Homo sapiens: one gene and its partner. The protein of the gene in region 1 interacts with the protein of each later gene in a pairwise test. Each region holds a gene or a part of one and is shown in the gene's direction. Other genes may lie near its edges. The genes, in order: B3GALT2 and GNPTAB.

Region 1 (3,925 bases):
CCTAAATGCACATGTTGGTACACAGTAGTTAATCAATATGTACCTGTTGAAAAAGTGAAAATATAAACATTCATTTATTATTCTATTAATGATTCCTGGGTATGCTGCGCCAGTGTTCAGAAAAAAAAAAAATCCCACAATTTCTCTAGCAGTGCCATGTAATAAAAAGTTTAAGAACAGAGAATAATGATAGTACTAGATAGATTTAAAAAGAAAACAAAAACACAGAGGATAAGAATTTAGATAATCTTGCTTCAATTCCCAGCTTGGCCTCTATTCTTATCAGTATTTATCTGACATTTGGACTATTTTACAACTCCAGGCACTGGTTCTGCATCTTTTAAGTGGGTATTACAATAATAAAATTATTAGAAAAGAGCCATTTGCATAACAGCTCAAGTAAGCTTAGCACGCAATCTGATTTTCAGTAAATACTCCATAAATGGTCATTGTGGCTAGCTTCATAGTCAAATCCTATGTAAAGAATCACTGATAAATAAATACTGATCTACAAAAACACATCTGTACTTCTGGAAAATAAGTTATTTTAAGTAAGTTCTTAAGCATTACTCTGTTAACTAGTAAACTAATTTTAAAAACAAAACGGTAGTGAGTGAGAATTGCAGTATGGGTGGATATAGACTACAAGGAAGTTGGGTTTTAGTCCTCTCCTTCAAACTTAACTAGGAAAAGTCAAAGCTCAGTCTAGGCTTTAGGTTTCCTATTTATAAAATTCTTTTTTTTCTTTAACGATCCTTCTAACATTTCTAATACAGTGGGGTTCTTAAAACTACAAAGCACATTTCATCAGCAAAGCTCAAAAATATGTGGACAAAATTTTTTTTAATATCAGAGAAAACAAATTCATATTCATTTGAAATAGCATATATTAATGGTGGAGGCAGTGAGATGAAGAATATGTATATAACTGTTAACCTTTAGCTTAAGCTCCAAAACTATAACTTTCTAGGACTGAATTACTGTCCCTAGAGTCACAGAGGAAAAACTGATAATAAAGGCTTTTTACTACAACAAAAAATTTAAAAAAACCTTCCCTACTGCTCTGCAGTAAGAAAAGAAGGTGCCAGCCCCAGAAACTAACCATATTAGAAAAATCTCAGTGAGTGTGTAGTGTTAATAAAATCTGCCTCATGGCAAGTTATTAAATCTTTCTGAAACATTAGAATAAGTAAACATAATTAGTAAAATCTCATTACCCCCAGATCCTGTACAAGTGTGCTATATCTATTACATCATTTTACTGAATTCTACGATACATGTAATTTTAAAGGGAAGGAAAAATAAATAAAAAATAAATGACAACATTAAAAAGTGATTTAAAATAAAGTTTTCTGCCATCAAGAACACCAAAAACCACATAAGAGCAAAAAAGAAGTGGGCTGTATCACATCATGCATTAGTAAAGTAATCCAAGACAGCTTATTTATACAAACCCCAGAAAACGGGGGGGGGGATCTAAATTACAAAGATACATGGTTTCAATAGAAACCATAGGTCTTAACTACATATTAGTAAAAAATCAAGAGCAATTTGAAAGCAGAGAAAAAAAACTTCAAGAAGAGAATGCACTGAAGGGGTTAAATTACACCAACTTACACACAAAAGCTTATACTGCTTACACCCTACAAAAGCATGTAAGAAACATGAAAACCAACATCTAACACAGAAAACACTTAGAAAGCCTGTACTTAAGAATAAAGTTAAAAAAGGAAGTAAGCTGGAAAAAATAAAATCATAACCATTTCATAATCATCACATTTTCAAATTATTCACTCATCACTACACTTGCATTCAACATATATAATTTATCACATAAAAGCAAAATCTCTAAGCTTCTCCCTACCTTAGGTTTTTAGTCAAAATGAATGCAAACAATCACGTGGGATTCAGCCAAGCAGTGACGTTAAATTCTGCTCTGTCAGAGAGAGCATCTGTCAAGCCCACATTTAAACTGCTGCCTGCCTGTGCAGCAGCTGAGGAACCGTGGATTTCATATTATAGACTAAAACCCCATTAAAACTGCTCAAAATCCTTCCTGCAGCTGCCAGGCAACAACGAAAGAAGAGAGGTAAATCCTATTCTTTTCCAATACAACTGAAGCACTACATTTTAGCTCTGGCTGCTTTACATTGCAGCTCAGTGTTATTAGTAGAAATATGGATACTGAGACGAGAACACAGCACTGCATTGTCCAGCCAGGAAAATAGCAGATGTAAAAAGCTTCAATGCATCAACTGTCGGGAAGAGTCAACAGTGCTACAAGCAGAACGGGCAACTACAGCTCTTTTGTTTAACGAAAGAGAGAAAATGAAAGAAAGGGAAAATTTCAGAAGACTAGGACCCATATGAACAAGGAGGGTAACTCGAAGACAAGCAGACAGATGGACACTTTGGATACTGTGAAAAGCAATCGCAGGAGGCAGACTGTTGGGGGATGTGCGCATGTTCGATAGCATCTTTTTTGCTGAAGTGATGGCGTGCCAAAAGTATTTTCAGTGGGCATAATCCTCTTCACATAAATGGCCTGACCAAGGAAGGTATGTCAATATCTTGTGTATGATAGTCATTTAAATGTGTTACCTTTTTATAGCCCTGGAGGCACTAATACCTGATAAGCAAGTTCATACAGCTCACTGCCCTTGAAACTATGAAAAGGTTTCTTAATATCTGATTTTAAAATTTGTCATTGTTTAGAAGACAAGCTGTCACTGCTTTATGCAGCTAAATATGTAGCTTGGAGTAATTCTGGGTAATAGACATCAGAGGGAAAAGGCAAATAAGAAGAAGATGTGTTTAAAGGATTCCTTAAGAAATTAAACTTAAAAAAAAATCTGTAGCCCTTTACAAAAAACACAGCAATATTCTATCAAATTAGGTCAAACTGAATCCTTATCTAGTAAATTAAATGCTCTCTTAAAAATGGCTATCAAAAGACACAATGCAGTGAAATTTCATTAAATAGTAGCAAGGAAAACCTTAAGAGTTTTTTTTTCAAAGTCCTTTTAAAACAAAACCTTAATATGTAACAGCTTTTAGTAACAAAATCTTCCCCAACATCTCCCTAAATGAAGATAATGAACACAACCAAAGAGAGTATCAACAAATTTTAAATATTACCAAGCTACAAGAAGATACTAAAAGGAAAGCATTAACATAAGATCACATAAGGTAGTGTGAGTTTATGCATAACCCCACAATAGAGCCTCGTGTTATTATAGTGACCATGAATAGAACTTTAAACAAAGGGACATCAATAGTGGCTTTAAAAATTAACTATTTTAAATAGCTTACATTTTATGTAAAAGACTGATTCCAAATGATCAAATTTAACGTTGTCTCTGATTATCATTTCAGAAGTGAAATTCAAAAACATAATATGGAAATACTTTGATACAAAAATATCCACAAATGGCAATACAAGGTCAAAAAATTAAATATAAATGTAGCTACTATGCTTCCAGGCTATATTAATATGCAGTAATGAACTACCGCCACTATATGTGTGTGCAGGGCACAGATAAACCAAATAAACTATTTTAGCAACAATCATAGAACAGCAACTCAGGGCTCAAGAACTTAAAGATATTTCTAAAATTCTACAAATCTATCAAAGATCCTGATTTTTCCTCAATTTCACAACACAACTCAGTAATTATCTAATAATCACAAAAGGCAAACATTTTTTAAAAATATGTAAGTACTGCATTCCAAAATGAAGATTAAACAAGTTTACCAGACTCTATTACACCTCAACATCACTCTCACCCATGAATTTTTATTCTAATAAAGACTAATAATAAATAGTACTAAAAAATATGGTTGTAAAAATTTCAAGTCCCTCTTGGTACCTTAATCTCTCAATATTGAAGTCACCAATTAAGCAGTTTTATAAGCTATACATCTC
Region 2 (3,925 bases), on another chromosome or scaffold:
TAAGATGGGTATGTAAAGCACCTCACACAGTTCCTACTACATAACAGACCCTCATTAAATGGTCATGGCTACTGCTGCTATTATATTATCAACTCTTTTATGTCCTTAAACCTTATTTTGAAATATATCCTTGAATCAGAATACTTTGATCATATAGTTAATATTACCAACTTGTTAATAATCTCACTAATTGTAATGGATTGTAAGCTCACTAATTGTAAGTCCTTTTGGACTAAGAAGATCATTGTTTTTTTTGTTTTGTTTTGAGATAGAGTCTCACTCTTGCCCACGCTGGAGTGCAGTGGGGTGATCTCAGCTCACTGCAACCTCCACCTTCCAGGTTCAAGTAATTTTCCCTGCCCCACCCTCCGGAGTAGCTGGGATTATAGGCACCCGCCATCACGCTAGACTAAGTTTTTGTATTTTTAGTAGAGACAGGGTTTCACCATGTTGGCCAGGCTGGTCTCAAACTCTGGACCTTAGGTGATCCGCCTGCCTTGGCCTCCCAAAATGCTGGGATTATAGGTGCGAGCCACTGTGCCTGGCCCTCAGAAGATCATTGTTAACTGTAAATTTGTTATCGTCTCCTCCTCTCAATATAACAGGTATTTGATGCTGTATTTTGATAAGCCTTTTCTATATTCATCCAAACTTCGAGAAGTAGAATTGAGGGAAGGAAGTATCAAACAAAACAAGCTGGGTGAGGTGGCTCATGCCTGTAATCCCAGGACTTTGGGAGACTAAGGCTGGAGGATTGCTTGAAGTCAGGAGTTGGACAAGCCTGGGAAACAAAGGAGACCCTGTCTCTACAAAAAAAAATAAAAATAAAGGCTGGGCGTGGTGGCTCACACCTGTAATCCCAGCACTTTGGCAGGCCGAGGCAGGAGAATTGCTTGAGCTCAGGAGTTTGAGACCAGCCTGGGCAACATGGCGAAACCCTATCTCTGCAAAAAAAGTAGAGTAGTCCCAGTTGCTTGGGAGACTGGGGTGGGAGGATCACTTGAGCCCTGGTGGTTGAGGCTGCATGAGCCGTGATTGCACCACTGCACTTAAGCCTGGGTGACAGAGTGAAACCTTGTCTCAAAAATAAATACATAAATAAAAAAAGTTAGCTAGGTGTGGTGGCACATGCCTGTAGTCCCAGCTGCTCAGGAGGCAGGAGGCTGTGGCAGGAGTGTTGCTTGAGCCCAGGAGTTTGAGGTGCAGTGCCTGTGATTGTGCCATGCACTCCAGCCTGGTAGACCTGGTCTCAAAAAAAAAAAAAAAAAAAAAAAAAAAACAACTCCCACAGGGAGAGCCTTCAGAATGGGGACTAGTGGTCACAAAAATGCATTGCCTTGGACTGTAGGTAGCAGGTAATCAGTCTATTGTAAATTAGTTAGCTCCACAAATGGTGTTACTAGATTGACTGCTCTTAAGATCCTTTTTAGCTTAGAAACTTCTGGTTTTTAAATAATTTGTTCTCTGTTAGTTGCTACTGTATAGATTTTAAAACGTGTTTTTGAGTTAAAATTTATTATTTCAGGGCCATCATTATTTAATCGAACCATTTATATACAAGTCCACAATTCTTCACACTCAGGAAAATACAGACTATACCTAGCCTCAAGTCAGTTTAGTCATTTTGCCACCAAATAAGTACAGGGCAGGTCAAGTTTAGTTGCCAAATAAGGTACAAAAAGATCTCTAGGTAGGGCTGGTCTGTTTTGAAAAAAAAAAAAAATTAAAAATCAGAAAAATAAAATTAAAAAAATTAAAAATTAGAAACAAAAAGTTGAAAGCCCCTCCAGTATTCAGAGCATTTTGGATTTCAGGATTACTAATAGAGGGTTGTAGATCAGTGTGTATATGTGTATGTGTATCTGTGTGTGGGGGTATGGTGTATGTATAACGTATCACTTCCTTTGTGCACTAAGTATGGAAACAAATATCCAAGAATTAACTTGCATAAGGAAGCAAAATAGGTTCACATAGAATCTACTCGTAATGAATGGTAATTTTTCCGTGACCTCTCTGCTCCCTTTTGCTTTCCTGCTTTTCTGTTGCCATTTTGAATCAATGAGTTATTTTCTGTGAAAAGGAGAATTGAAAACTGGGTCTAGCTCAAGTTATGTTCAGCCTCAGTGGTGACCAGTGTCTTATACTGGCCTTATTTCAAGAAATTAGTTATCATTTTTGTATTTGATTAGTTCACTCATTAAACAGATATATTTGAGTGTGTTCTTGGCCAAAGGCAACAAACAGATGAGTTAGAAAGAGGCCTGGCCTGAGAGTGGGGACCGTCTGGCCTGCTCCTAGGTGCAGCACAAATTGTGATCCTCAGTGGTTCCCAAACTGAGTTACTCCCAGCTGCCTTGTGGGTTGGGAGTAGCCCCTCTTATCTATTTCGTGTGGACTTGTTTTCTGGGAAAGGTTTCATTGTTTAAAAAATGTTTACAAACTATGAGACTATATTTCTAAGAGCCTCATTTTAGCTTTAATGTTTTGTGAATATACATTTATTGGATACTTCACATGAGAAGCATGACTTGTAATGGATTTTATACTAGAGATGCCAATGGCCACACAGAGCCTTTTTAAAGGGTCTCTTTGTTTTGGGGGGTTTGTGAGAGGTACATAGTCCAGCTAACTATCAAAGTAGGGACCTTGTCTTATTCTCTGCTGTATTCTTAGCCACTAGAAAGTGATTGGTACCCAGTAGATGCTGAATAAATACTTGATGGATGCATGAATGAATGGATTGATTAATTGGGTTGATCTTAACTGACATCCTTTCAAATTTATTTCAAGTAAAGGTAAATTTTTTGCTCTGATGTAGCGTTTATAGTTCCCTTTTATTTCTCAAATGTGATTGATCTGATATAACTTGAACATTTTCATGCTCTGAGAGTCATTCCTGCTCTGGTAACTTTCTCTAAAAATCTGAGACCTGTTGTTAGACTGTACAGTGGAAGATGCTGTCGTCAGAATATACAGTGGAAAATGCTGTCAGAGATACAAATAATTATAGCTCATGCCTTTGGCTATTGTTTAGTTGAGATGAGGCCAAGATGTATGTATGAGGACTGAATAACAACACAGGGGAATAAGCAATTGAATGCCTGAGTTAGTACACAACAATTGCTTAGAAAGTCAGAAGACAGAAGAATGTTGTGGGTTGAAACATCCTCGAGGCAGTTCTGACACCTTTTCAAGGAGGCATGAGCTTTAGGGAGGCTTCATGGACAAGTAGGAGTTTAAACAGAAGAGAGACAAGGAAAGATTATTTTAGGAAGTGGTGGGAGTAATTTTAGCATAAAGTTGGTAATGTCAGAGAAGTTTGTGATCGCTTTTTCTTTTTGAATTACTAGTGGTTTAACATTGCAGCTAGAATTAGTTAACAGCACTAGGTTGCAAGTGACAGACTCCCAACTCAGACCTAGCTTATTAACTAGTTTATTATTAACCAGTTTGTTAACTGGGATAATTGAAAAATATAGGATGAGGCCAGGTGTGGTGGCTCATGTGTGTAATCCCAGCACTTTGGGAGGCCAAGGCGAGTTCGAAAGCAGCCTGGCCAACATGGTGAAACCCTGTCTCTACAAAAAATACAAAAATTAACTGGGCGTGGTGGTGCATGCCTGTAGTCCCAGCTACTTGGTAGGCTGAGGCAGGAGAATCGCTTGAACCCTGGAGGCAGATGTTGCAGTGAGCCAAGATTGTGCCACTGCACTCCAGCTTGGGCGACAGAGTGAGGCTCTGTCTCAAACAAAACAAAACAAAAAGGTTAACCAAAAAAAAAAAAAAAAAAAAGAAAATATATATATATATATATATATATATATGGTGAAATTTCTGGCAGGAGTGGATCGAGGTGCTCAAATGATGTCATCAGGAATCTCTTTTTGTCCCTGTTTCTCACCTCTGCCTTCCCCTCTTTAGTTTA

The links.
Region 2: the proteins of B3GALT2 (region 1) and GNPTAB interact in binary tests that used the Homo sapiens proteins (3 or more experiments, as listed by UniProt).

The regions. Positions count from the first base shown.
Region 1 is NC_000001.11:193,184,652-193,188,576, reverse strand, and holds the start of B3GALT2 (beta-1,3-galactosyltransferase 2), read left to right. Parts: upstream 1-1,963; 5' UTR 1,964-2,558; intron 2,559-3,925. UniProt on the Homo sapiens protein: Beta-1,3-galactosyltransferase that transfers galactose from UDP-galactose to substrates with a terminal beta-N-acetylglucosamine (beta-GlcNAc) residue. Can also utilize substrates with a terminal galactose residue, albeit with lower efficiency.
Region 2 is NC_000012.12:101,824,305-101,828,229, reverse strand, and holds part of GNPTAB (N-acetylglucosamine-1-phosphotransferase subunits alpha/beta precursor), read left to right. Parts: intron 1-3,925. UniProt on the Homo sapiens protein: Catalyzes the formation of mannose 6-phosphate (M6P) markers on high mannose type oligosaccharides in the Golgi apparatus.